2 linked regions of the Homo sapiens genome follow. The protein of the gene in region 2 interacts with the protein of the main gene of each other region in a biochemical or structural test. Each region holds a gene or a part of one and is shown on either strand. Other genes may lie near its edges.

Region 1 (6,262 bases), on a different chromosome or scaffold from region 2:
AGGCAGACCCCACCAGCACGTCAGAGCCCTCCAGCTAGGCAGACCCCACCAGCCTGGCAGAACCCAGTCGCTTGGCAGAACCCAGTGATTTGGCCAAACCCAGTAATCTGGCAGAACCCAGTGATCTGGCCAAACCCCATTGTCTGGCCCGGCCCTGTTGTCTGGCCGAATCCACTGGCCTGGCAGAATCCACCTGGATGGCAGACTCCACCTGGATGGCAGACCCCACCGGGCTGGCAGGGTCCTCCAGACTGGCAAGGTCCTCCTGACTGGCCGCTACCACCCGACTGGCCACTGCCACCTGATTGGCCACTTCCCACTGACTGGCCACTACCACCTGACTGGATCCCCGCTGATTGGCCAATTCCACCTGACTGGCAGAACCTGCGCCCCTCGCCTAACCTGCGCCCTTCTCCCAACTCGCGTGCCTCACAGAACCCAGGTGCTGCACAGCCCCGAGATGTGGCCCTTCTTCAGGAAAGAGTAAGAGCTGTAACTCCCCAGTCACTTTTCCCCTCTCTTGCTCTTTTCTTTGTCATCCTCTCATCTGTAATTCAACCAAGTTTTTTTGTAAATATTTTATAAGTTTAATGATTTCCTTTTTCCCTCCCAGGCAAATAAGTTGGTCAAGTACTTGATGCTTAAGGACTACACAAAGGTGCCCATCAAGCGCTCAGGTATGCATCCAGTGTCCCCTCCCCAAGCTCTGCCCTTCCCTTCACTCCATGCTCTGTCAGCATTCTTCTGCTTGTAGCTCTGCCCTTCCCTTCACTCCATGCTCTGTCGGCATTCTTCTGCTTGTATGACCCTTCCCCTTCTATCCCCTCCTTTCCATGGTTGGCTCTTTCCACCCTTGAGGACCTTGACTGTGCTACCCCCAGCAGGGCTGGCAAAGGGACTGCTGCTCTGTGGCCCCCGCTCGGCTCAGATGGCTCCCTCCTCTCTCCTACAGAAATGCTGAGAGATATCATCCGTGAATACACTGATGTTTATCCAGAAATCATTGAACGTGCATGCTTTGTCCTAGAGAAGGTGAGAAGGCAGCCCTGGGGTACAGGAATAATGGGGAAAGTCTTGATTTCAAAGATTCATGGGGTTCCTACTGGGAGTTTAGGGCAAGTCTCAGGGAGATGAGTGTCTGCCTATGGGTAGCTTATGCTAGATGTTGTAATTTCATAGTCTGTTTTCTTGCCCCTGTAGAAATTTGGGATTCAACTGAAAGAAATTGACAAAGAAGAACACCTGTATATTCTCATCAGTACCCCCGAGTCCCTGGCTGGCATACTGGGAACGTAAGATGGGAAAGAAGGTGGAACATGGCCTTTCTCAGTGGTGCTTTTTTTCTAGGAGTTTCACGTAGATCAGGGTCCAGGGTTCAGGGTCACATAGCAGGTCATGGGCAGAGCTGGGGTATAATTCTCCCCTAGCTGAGGAATATTGGGGAGGCTAGATGGGCAAGCTGGTTGGGGTCTCTCATGCAAATGGCTACTGAAAATATATTCTTTCTATATTCCCTTAGGACCAAAGACACACCCAAGCTCGGTCTCCTCTTGGTGATTCTGGGTGTCATCTTCATGAATGGCAACCGTGCCAGTGAGGGTGAGTGGCTGGACCTGCAGCTGGGGGTTGGCCACAGCCTGATTTCCATGCTTATTTTCCGTCCCTTGTCTCCCCTTGCCTCCCATTGCAGCTGTCCTCTGGGAGGCACTACGCAAGATGGGACTGCGTCCTGGGTATGATTGGGCTCTCTCATCTCTTGCCTGTTTGTGCCATCCTTTGGCAACAGTGGATGGTCCCAGGATTGCATTAACCTGGGGGTCTGGAGGGTTTGGTTTGGGGATGTTCAGAGCCCAAAGATGTGACCTGGGTGGATGGGGAAACAGTTCTGAACTCTCTGCCTCTTTTCTCATCTCTGACCTCTGTTCTGGAAAGCTCTTTGGGCATGGTAATAGCCTCTGATTGTGGGTTTCCTTTTTTTACCTTCAGGGTGAGACATCCCCTCCTTGGAGATCTAAGGAAACTTCTCACCTATGAGTTTGTAAAGCAGAAGTAAGTGATGCCTAAGGGGCTTTTCCTGCTTCTTATGATTCTGCCTGTGTGCTGGTCAGCTTTAGAAAGCCCTTCCTGGCTGGATACAATGGCTCATGCCTGTAATCCCAGTACTTTGGGAGGCTCAGGTGGGCAGATCGCTTGAGCCCAGGAGTTCAAGACCAGCCTGGGCAACATAACGAAACCCCATCTCTACAAAAAAATACAAAAATTAGCCAGGCGTGGTGACATGCACCTGTAGTCCCAGCTACTTGGGAGGCTGAGGTAGGGGAGAATCATCTGAGCCCAGGAAGTTGAGGCTGCAGTGAGCTGTGATCATGCCACTGCACTCCAACCTGGGCAACAGAGTGAGACCCTGTCTCAAAAAAAATAAAAGAAAGCCCTTCTCAAGCTCGTTTCTTACACTATACTTGTGCATATGTGTTTCTGTGCATACAGAAACACTTATGTCCTCAGGAGTATTTATTGCATATACTCCTCATGGTTAAATTCTTTATTTTTTATTTTTTTATTTTTTGAGACGGAGTTTCGCTCTTGTTGCCCAGGCTGGAGTGCAATGGCGTGATCTCGGCTCACCGCAACCTCTGCCTCCTGGGTTCAAGCTATTCTCCTGCCTCAGCCTCTTGAGTAGCTGGGATTACAGGCATGTGCCACCACGCCCACCTAATTTTGTCTTCTTAGTAGAGACGGTGTTTCTCCATGTTAGGCTGGTCTCAAACTCCCGACTTCAGGTGATCTGCCTGCCTTGGCCTCCAGAAGTGCTGAGATTACAGGCGTGAGCGACCGTACCGGGCGAATTCTTTTGTTTGTTTTTTTCGAGACTGAGTCTCACTCTGTTGCCCATGCTGGAGTGCAGTGGTGCAATCTTGGCTCGCTTGAACTTCCACCTCCCAGGTTCAAGCAATTCTTGTGCCTCAGCCTCCCGAGTAACTGGAACTTCAGGTGCGTGCCACCGTGCCCGGCTGTTTTTGTATTTTTAGTAGAGATGGGGCTTCACCACGTTGGCCAGGCTGGTCTCAAACTCCTGACCTGAAGCAATCCACCCACCTCTGCCTCCCAAAGTGCTGGGATTACAGGTGTGAGCCACCACACCCGGCCAGAATTTTTCTAATTTTTCTACTTTTCTAAGCAGTTGTCTTGCAAGTGAAGCCCATCCACCATCCCCACAGTAGACATTCCCAAGGCTGGGCCAGGCTGACACTTTTGCACTGCATTGTACTCATTTCAATGGACCTCTGTGGCTCACTGACAAGATTACAAGAATCTGGAGCTAGAGCTGAGGCAGAAGGAGTGAAAGGAAATGTTGTCCTTTCTGTGACCCTATACAAGCCTCGCCTGCATCTCTAGTGAGTGCTTAGCGTTCTAGTGCAGGAATTTAAGGCTTGATGATTAAGGGGTAAATACCCTGATGGTGTTCAGGAATGAGCCCAAGGGGGAGTTGCTATCTGAAATCTGTTAAAAAATGTAAGATTATTTTTCATTAGTGGACTACCATTCTGCCTGGGTAGGTAGACACAAAGACTGTTTTGCTCTTTCAGATACCTGGACTACAGACGAGTGCCCAACAGCAACCCCCCGGAGTATGAGTTCCTCTGGGGCCTCCGTTCCTACCATGAGACTAGCAAGATGAAAGTGCTGAGATTCATTGCAGAGGTAATGGAGGAACTGTTCCAGCATTGATAGGTCAAGGGATGAAGTATAGCTGGCTGGGAAAGGCCCAGGGTAGGAATGAGATCCTAGGTGTGGCAGGTGGTAGGTGCCGCATTGCTGGTGGTATTTGTTGTTGCTGTTAGGTAAACTTAACATGTATTAGGTGCTAACATATGTTAATATATTAGCTAATACAATTATGAGTTTGTTTTGGGTTTTTTTTTAGGTTTTTAAAGTATTTTTATTTTTTCCCAACTTTACTAAATTATAATTGACAAAAATTGTATATATTTGTGGTGTACAATGTAATTTTTAAGTATTTTGTTTTATTTATTTATTTATTTGTTTTCTCCCGAGATGGAGTTTTGCTGTGTTGCCCAGGCTAGAGTGCAGTGGCGCAATCTTGGCTCACTGCAACCTCTGCCTCCCAGGTTAAAGCGATTCTTGTGCCTCAGCCTCCCAAGTATCTGGGATTACAGGCACGTGCCACCACCATGCCTGGCTAAATTTTTATTTTTCTATTAGAGACAGGGTTTTGCCATGTTAGCCAGGCTGGTCTCAAACTCCTGACCTCAAGTGATCTGCCTGCCTCAGCCTCCCAAAGTGTTGGGATTACAGGCGTGAGCCACCGTACCCGGCCCATTCATTTATTTTTAACTGACTAATAAAAAATATACATATTTATGGGGTACAGTATGATGTTTTGATAATACATGTACATTGCAGAATGATTACATCAAGCTAGTTAACTCTCCATAGCCTCATATACTTGACATTTTTTTTGTGATGAGAACATTTAAAATGTACTCTTTTAGCAATTTTAAATAAACGACACATTATTATTAACTATAGTCGTCATGCTATACGGTTGATCTCCAGAACATATTCTTCCTATCTAAATGAAACTTTGTACCTTTTAACCGATATCTCCCTATCCCTCCTGACCCCAGGCCCTGGAAACTACCATTCTACTCTCTGCTTCTATGAGTTAGACGTTTTTAGATTCCATGTATAAGTGAGGTCATGCAGTATTTGTCTTTCTGTGTCTGGCTTATTTCACTTAGCATAATGTCATCCAGCATCATCTATGTTGTTGCAAATGGCAGAATTTCCTTCTTTTTAAAGGCTGAATAGTATTCCATTGTGTGTGTGTGTATCACATTGTCCTTATCCATTCATCCACTGATGGACAGGTAGGTTGATTCCATATCTTGGCTATTGTAAATGGATTTTGTTTTGTTTTCTATTCCTCATCTCAGGTTCAGAAAAGAGACCCTCGTGACTGGACTGCACAGTTCATGGAGGCTGCAGATGAGGCCTTGGATGCTCTGGATGCTGCTGCAGCTGAGGCCGAAGCCCGGGCTGAAGCAAGAACCCGCATGGGAATTGGAGATGAGGCTGTGTCTGGGCCCTGGAGCTGGGATGACATTGAGTTTGAGCTGCTGACCTGGGATGAGGAAGGAGATTTTGGAGATCCCTGGTCCAGAATTCCATTTACCTTCTGGGCCAGATACCACCAGAATGCCCGCTCCAGATTCCCTCAGACCTTTGCCGGTCCCATTATTGGTCCTGGTGGTACAGCCAGTGCCAACTTCGCTGCCAACTTTGGTGCCATTGGTTTCTTCTGGGTTGAGTGAGATGTTGGGTAGGTACATCACTTTGGATTGGGCAGTTAGGGTCTCTGGGGGATATAGGGTCCATGGGGTTGTATTTATGTGCATGAGCTAGAAGTATTAGGAAACTCATTGTAGGGAGATGAGGAAAGTATGGGGCAGCACTCTTTGGTATGTATATTCCTTATTATTTGATATATATCATTGATTTTTTTACTTCTTCTTTCTTATGTTCACAGATATTGCTATCAATCGCAGTAGTCTTTCCCCTGTGTGAGGCTGAAGCCTCAGATTCCTTCTAAACACAGCTATCTAGAGAGCCACATCCTGTTGACTGAAAGTGGCATGCAAGATAAATTTATTTGCTGTTCCTTGTCTACTGCTTTTTTTCCCCTTGTGTGCTGTCAAGTTTTGGTATCAGAAATAAACATTGAAATTGCAAAGTGAATTAGATGTGCTCTCTGCTTCTTTTTTTCCCTATATTTGGGGAGCGAGCAACATGTTTATGTGGGAGAGACAGGACCTCAGCTGTAGTTTGAAGGGTAGATCAGCTTTCAGCAGGTGGAAATGTGGGAAGATCTAGCTACTGGATTGGGATACAAAGGCAGGATCAATGAACACGAGACCCAAGAACTAGTATAGTTTATTCAATAAATATCACTTAAGTGACTCTCATGTGATAGATATGCTGCTAGGTGTCTTGGAGTGACATTGCGAGAAGTCGCATAGTGAGAGAGGGTATTGGTGCTCAGACAGTTGCACTTAAGAACACAGAGGAGGTGGAGCTCCAGGTGATGATAAGGTCCAGAGAGTAGGTAGTTGAAGGGGACAGAAGGTGACTATTCTGGAGATAAGGGGTCCATGGCCTGTGATTCTAGGGTGTTGGTTATACAACCCATGTGGAAAGTGAAAGAACTCCAGGAGGGCAGCAGGAGTAGGAGTAGAGAACA
Region 2 (6,875 bases):
ATCAACAGGGGAGGAGAGACAAACTCCTGTGCAGAATTCCATACAGTTTCTGTAGAGAACCTGCAGTTAAGGAAATGGAGCATAATTCCTCACTCCTTAAATTTGGCCCAGGAATAGTGACTTCATTCCAAAGAGTACAGTGTGGAAAACGAGAAAAAAAACGAGTAAGTTTAGGCTGGGCGTGGTGGCTTACGCCTGTAATCCCAGCACTTTGGGAGGCCAAGGTGGGCAGATCACCTGAGGTCAGGAGTTCGAGACCAGCCTGGCCAACATAGTGAAACCCTATCCCTACTAAAAATACAAAAATTAGCCAGGCATAATAGCATGCAGCTGTAGTCCCAGCTACTCAGGAGGCTGAGGCAGGGGAATTGCTTGAACCTGGGAGGTGGAGGTTGCAGTGAGCTGAGATTACACCATTACACTCCAGCCTGGGCCAATGAGTGAGACTCCATCTCAAAAAAAAAAAAAAAAAAAAAAAAGGCCTGGCACAGTGGTTCACGCCTGTAATCCCAGCACTTTGGGAGGCCAAGGTGGGCAGATCATCTGAGGTCAGGAGTTCAAGACCAGCCTGGCCAACATGGTGAAACCCCGTCTCTACTAAAAATACAAAATAAGCCGGGCGTGGTGGCTCATGCCTGTAATCCCAGCTACTCGGGAGGTTGAGGCAGGAGAATCGCTTGAACCCAGGAGGCGGAGGTTGCAGTGTGTCGAGATTGAGCCATTGCACTCCAGCCTGGGCAACAAGAGTGAAACTCTGTCTCAAAAAAAAAAGTAAGTTTACAGTGGAGAAACCTGACAAACACTACCTAGATTTCCAAAGCCTAATTTCCTAACCATGGTTGCAATCCCAACCTGGAACGTTTTATCTGTGTGGTACTGTCATATCAAGAAATAAGAAATGCCAGGTGATCGAGATGAACACCAACAATGATAGTTCATGTTGATAACACGTACCCTGGATATGATGCCATGAGAATGACACTTTACCTATGTGGTCTTCCATCCCCAAATCCATAACCCCAGTCTAATCATGAGAAAAACATCAGACAAATCCCAGTTGAGGGACATTCTACAAAATATCTGTCTGGTACTCCTCAAATTGTCGAGGTCATCAAAAACAAGGAAAGTCTGAGAATCTATCACAGCCAAGAGGAGCCTAAGGAGACACACAGACTAAATGTCAGGGTGGCTTCTAGGTGTGCTTGCTGTTCCTGGGGTAGAATGCTAAGGTGGGGTGGGGGCACCAACAGATACCTATGCACAGCTTAGGGAAGCATCTCCATGAGTGCAGCTATGACTTTCACCAAAGTTCCTGGCCCTCTGTGATGTCAGGGCCTGCATTTCTTGATCTGACTGCACAACACAGATAAAATGTTCCAGGTTGGGATTGCACCCATGGTTAGGAAACTAGGCTTTTGAAACAGACTTGAATTGACATCCTACTCTGCCATTTCATTTGTTACTTTGGGAAGATTACCAAAACCTCTCTGTGCCTCTTTTCTCATCATCTCTAACATAGGGATTATAATTGTAACCACTAATAACTGGCTAATTTTTCTTTTTTCTTTCTGTTTGCAAAGGACAAATAAAGTATGTAGGGTGCTTCGCCTAGTACCTGGCACTTAGCACTCAGTAAATGTTAGCTATTTACTATTGTACACTGTGTAATTCATTTAGTGTATGTATTTTCTTTTCTTGTTGTTTTGTTTGTGTATTTGTTTTTGAGACAGAGTGTTGCTCAGTCACCCAGGCTAGAGTACAGTGGTGTGATCTCAGCTCACTGCAACTTCTGCCTCCCAGGCTCAAGGGATCCTCCCACCTCAGCCTCCCTGGTAGCTGGGATTACAGGTGCTCACCACCATGCCCAGATCATTTTTGTATTTTTACTAGAGACAGGGTTTCACCATGTTGGCCAGGCTGGTCTGGAACCCCTGACCTCAGGTGATCCACCTGCCTCGGCCTCCCAAAGTGCTGGGATTACAGGCGTGAGCCGCCACACTTGGCTGTGTGTGTGTTTTTTGTTTTTGTTTTTGTTTTTTTTGTTGTTGTTGTTTTGATGGAGTTTCACTCTTGTTGTCCAGGCTGGAGTGCAATGGCGAGATCTCGGCTCACCGCCACCTCTGCCTCCTGGGTTCAAGCGAGTCTCCTGGCTCAGCCTCCTGAGTGGCTGGGATTACAGGCACACGCCACCACGCTGGGCTAACTTTGTATTTTTAGTAGAGACGGTGTTTCTCCATGTTGGTCAGGCTGGTCTTGAACTCCCAACCTTAGGTGATCCGCCTGCCTCGGCCTCTCAAAAGTGCTGAGATTACAGGCATGAGCCACCATGCCCAGCCCGGCTGGTTTTTTGACAGAATTTTATTTAGGAAAATTGTTTTCCTTCTTTCCCCTTGTGCAAAAAAAAAAAAAAAAGAGAGGAAGAAGGGAGGAAGGAAGGAAGGAAGGAGAGAAAGAAAGAGAGAGAAAGAAGAAAAGAGAAAGAAAAAAGAAAAGAAAGAAAGAGAAGGAAGGAAGGAAAGAAAGAAGAAAGAAATTGTTAACTGGGTGTTGGAAAACTGAAAAGACAAAAGGGGCTCAACCATTGGATGTACTCACTGCAGGCAGCAGCTATCACACTATATGGAAAATCCAAAGGAGAGGCTGAGTTTAAAAACAATTTTTTAATTGGCCGGGCTCGGGGGCTCATGCTTGTAATCTCAGCACTTTGGGAGGCTGAGGCGGTTGGATCACTTGAATCCAGGAGACACGGCGAAACCCGGTATCTACCAAAAAATATAAAAATTAGCCGGGCGTGGTGGCGCGTGCCTGTAATCCCAGCTACTCTGGAGGCTGAGGCAGGAGAATCTCTTGAACCCGGGAGGCGGAGGTTGCAGTGAGCTGAGATCGCACCACTCCAGGCTGCACTCCAGCCTGGGTGACAGGGCGAGACCCTGTCTGTAATCAGTAATAATAATAATAAAATTAACAGCTTTATTGAGTATAATTTACATGCCATAAAATTCACCCACTGGAAGTTTACACTTTCTTCACTTTACAGGGTCTCACTCTGTCGCCCAGGCTGGGATGCAGTGGCGCCATGTCGGCTCACTGCAACCTCTGCCTCCCGGGGTCAGGTGATCCTCCCACCTCAGCCTCCCAAGTAGCCGGACTACAGGTGTGCACCACCACACCTAGCTAATTTTTCTTTTTTTTCTTTTTTCCTTTCTCTCCCTCCCTTCCTCCTTTTTTTTTTTTTTTTTTTGTAGATACGGTGTCTCCCCATGTGGCCAGGTTGGTCACAACTCCTGAACTCAAGTGATCCGCGCGTCTCGACCTCCCAAAGTGCTGGGATTACAGGCGTGAGCCACTGCGTCCGGCCACACTTCCATGACTTTTTAATAAACTTATACAGTTGTACAATTGTCACCACAATCCACTTTTAGAACATTTCTATTACCGCTTTCCTCCAATTTTTTCAAGCCCATCTGCATTCAATACCCGCTCCCACACCTCGCCCCAGGTAACTGTGCTCTTTGTCTTTGTAGATTTGCCTAGTGTAATTTATTTTTTACTTCGGTAATATAAGTAGGTCGTGCAAAATAGAGACTATTTAGCAACAGACTAGGCAGACTTAAATCCGATGGAAAGTTTAAAGTTGTTTAAAAGTGGGCTATAGTTTCACATGACTTTTTTAAAAAGAGGAAAGGTGAGAAGAGGTTCCAGTCTGGGGCGGCTAGGACTGGGGTGATGGTTCTGGAGGCGGCGAGGGAAGGTGTGAGGCGAGGAGACCTCTCGAATCGCGCCCGCCCCGCCCAGGGCCGGATTGGCTCCCAACCCACCCTCTTTGCTCCAGGGCGGCCGCCGTCCTCTTGCGCAGGCGTAGTGCTCCTGCTTCCTGGCCGAGGGCGGGCGAGCGGAGCCTGCTTTCGCAGCGATCGCGAGCGTGTGGCGATTGCTTCTGTCTGTTATTTAGATATGGAAGCTGAGGGGATGCACAGAGGCAGCCAGAACCTAGGTCAGGGTCTCGCTCGGTGCTGACCGCCCCCGGGGTCGAGTAGGCGATGGGGGAGCCCGGCTTCTTCGTCACAGGAGACCGCGCCGGTGGCCGGAGCTGGTGCCTGCGGCGGGTGGGGATGAGCGCCGGGTGGCTGCTGCTGGAAGATGGGTGCGAGGTACGGGGGAAGGGGTCCTGTGGAGCGGAGGGCAGGGGCTGGAGGGAGCGGGGCTCCGGGGAGGGAGGAAGGTGTCTTGCTGGGCTGAATGAATGGCAGAGAGGAGGCGGGCATCAGGAAGAGGAGCGAAGTGTCTGTGGGGGGGGTGGATTCCTGGGGAGAGAAGGGAGAAAGCGGTTCTGGCGCGAGCGGCTGAAGGGTCTGCGGTGGGAGGTGTTTGGGGGAGAAATAGGGGCCGAGTGGGAGAAAGGAAGAAAAGAGAGTTCGGCTCTGGGGAGCCCGGGGGGGCCACAAGGGTTGGGGCGAGGACGGAGGCCCTGACCCGCGGCCTGTGGGGCGAGAAGCGGGCCCCGTCCAGAGAGGCCTGGGTCAGCGGGTAGCTGGGCCGGGGACTGGGAGGAGAGGGACGCGCAGGGAACGTGAGGAGATGCGGGGGTGTCGAGGAGGGGAGGGCGGGGGCTGGCCAGATCCCGTTTAGGGCGCACAGAGCCCCGCGGTGCCAGGTCGGGGAACGGTGGCGGGGGCCGCGAGCTGCCGGGAAGCCGAGGCAGGGCCCGGCGCCTGAACTTTCTCGAGTTTGTTTTGAAAACGATTGCAAATTTTGGGTTTTGTCCCTTAAAGCAATCAAACTTTCACGTAGAAATGTCTTCCTCCTTCCCAACTCTGAGGAACATGGGCGGCTTGGGCTGGGCCACATTTCTCCTGTGAGGCTCGGTACGGCCGAGTGGCACTCCCTGAGGTGGGTCGGGCAGGTATTCAGAGTTCTCTCCAGAGGCTGCCTGTCGTCTTTATTAATGCAGTTGCAAATGAAAAATATTTTAAGGGGAAAGATGAGGTACCGTTCCTGGCACGGTTCAAGATGCACCAGCGTGGTGCATCTTGAAAAGACGAGGGAAGGGAGGAGGGAGTTAGATTGCAATCAGGTTGAGAAGGAGAACTGGGTCAGGGACAAGCTTGTGATGACTGGGAACCATTTGGGTTTTGGAAATAATCTGTATGAAAAGTTCTCTTTGCAGTAAAAGTGGATGGTTGGTCATGATGTAAATTCAAGAAGTATTTTGAGTCTCATGTGTGTTCAGGTAGATTTTTCCTATAAGCCGTACTGCCTCAATTCAGTCTGCCAGGTATTTACTGAGTATTTAACATTGTTTGGTGTACAATGAGGACAAATAAAATTTCTGCGCTCGAAGAGTTTAAGGCTTGAGTGGGGAGAGAGGATTTATACAATGAAGCAGTCATCGTATAAAGAACATCCATATGGGCTGTATGATCAAGTGCTAAGATTTGGATTATTTAGTTCCTTCCCAGAGCAGTAGTTCTTCAAGTCAGAGGAGGAATTCATGTCTAGGCACAAATTTAATTGCTAGATTAGGGAGTGTTATAAAGGGTTACTTGTATGCTGTGGTTTGAGGAACACCAAGAAAACATCTCTGCCTCCAAATACCTCTTCTATCCAGGTATTAGTGCCTAAAAGTCCACATTAAGCATTCATTCTTTTAGCTTGAGCACTGATCTTTCCCTGCCTGGCCCTTTCCAACAGCATATGTTTGTGGGAAGTTTAACAAATTAAAACACGAACACCTGAATAATAACCTGAATAATACACACAAAAATAAATTATTTTTGTGCATAACTATTAGTTAATTTCACATACATTACTTAATCTGATCCCTGCATACACACAACCTCATAAGATAACTCAGTGGGCAAGTGTTATTCCTTTAGATTCAATTGTTGTGGATTAATTTATGACTTCTGAATAGCTTGTCAGTACTGCAGTCTTGGGCAGGTGGGATGGGGAGGACGAATTAAAGCACCTGAAGAAAGGGCAAGAAGACTATAAAGCAGTCTTAGACATATTCTAAACCATTTGATAGTTCTTTATGGGGCCAGTTGCATGGGGAGGGACCCATATAAACTCAGTGGTAAGACTGTGGCTGGCTTCAGGGACCTGTGTGTAGGAGAAGCCTGCCAGGCTTGGCTGCCTGCAAGGTCAGGTCGTAGCATAGCCTGAAAAGAAGTCTGAATCAAAGGCAAGAGAAGAAGTTGTACTTATTGTTATGGTCCCCAAATCATAGCACAAGCTGTTTTGCACAAGATTTTAAAAGATACGCTAATAACATAACAGCAAAGGTAGGTCAGTTCCCTGCCTTTCCAGTTCTTAGTCTCAGATGTTGTGGATAAAATAATAAAACAGGGTTCCTTTCATTTCATTGATGGGAACACTGTAGTAAATTGTCTAATTAAGTGGCTTTAAGCTTGTTAAAGCAATGCATAGAGTTTGGTGGAAAAACAAGTAGAGATTTATTGCAAATTAGCTAGTTCTCAGGTACTATAAAGTATCTAGGCCTTTGGGGAAAACAACAGAACCTTCTCTCCCCTTTTCTTCTCTTGTATTTAGTTTTCATTAAGTTTTCTGCCCCAAGGGAAAAAAGGGAAAGGATGGTTATATTTACTGGTTTGGGGGCTTTTTTGTGGGGTGTTTTGTTTTGAGACAGAGTACTCCTTCTGTCACCCAGGCTGGAGTGCAGTGGTGTGATCACACCTTCACCTCCCTGGTTCAAGTGGTTCTTCTGTCTCAGCCTCCGAAGTAGCTGGGATTACAGATATGCACCACTATGCCCAGTTACTTTTTGTGTTTTCAATAGAGGTGGGGTTTCGCCATGTTGGCCAGGCTGGTCTCGAACTCCTGGCCTCATGTGATCCGCCCGCCTGGGCTTCCCA

Evidence for each region. Proteins that work in one complex are often made in the same cells at the same time.
Region 1: the proteins of RNF8 (region 2) and MAGED1 form a complex in vitro, tested with the Homo sapiens proteins (one study listed by BioGRID).

Annotation. Positions count from the first base shown.
Region 1 is NC_000023.11:51,896,595-51,902,856, forward strand, and holds the end of MAGED1 (melanoma-associated antigen D1), read left to right. Parts: coding exon 1-483; intron 484-613; coding exon 614-677; intron 678-952; coding exon 953-1,032; intron 1,033-1,200; coding exon 1,201-1,292; intron 1,293-1,519; coding exon 1,520-1,599; intron 1,600-1,690; coding exon 1,691-1,733; intron 1,734-1,986; coding exon 1,987-2,049; intron 2,050-3,587; coding exon 3,588-3,702; intron 3,703-4,958; coding exon 4,959-5,336; 3' UTR 5,337-5,344; intron 5,345-5,551; 3' UTR 5,552-5,760; downstream 5,761-6,262. UniProt on the Homo sapiens protein: Involved in the apoptotic response after nerve growth factor (NGF) binding in neuronal cells. Inhibits cell cycle progression, and facilitates NGFR-mediated apoptosis. May act as a regulator of the function of DLX family members.
Region 2 is NC_000006.12:37,350,125-37,356,999, forward strand, and holds the start of RNF8 (E3 ubiquitin-protein ligase RNF8), read left to right. Parts: upstream 1-3,858; 5' UTR 3,859-4,040; coding exon 4,041-4,151; intron 4,152-6,875. UniProt on the Homo sapiens protein: E3 ubiquitin-protein ligase that plays a key role in DNA damage signaling via 2 distinct roles: by mediating the 'Lys-63'-linked ubiquitination of histones H2A and H2AX and promoting the recruitment of DNA repair proteins at double-strand breaks (DSBs) sites, and by catalyzing 'Lys-48'-linked ubiquitination to remove target proteins from DNA damage sites.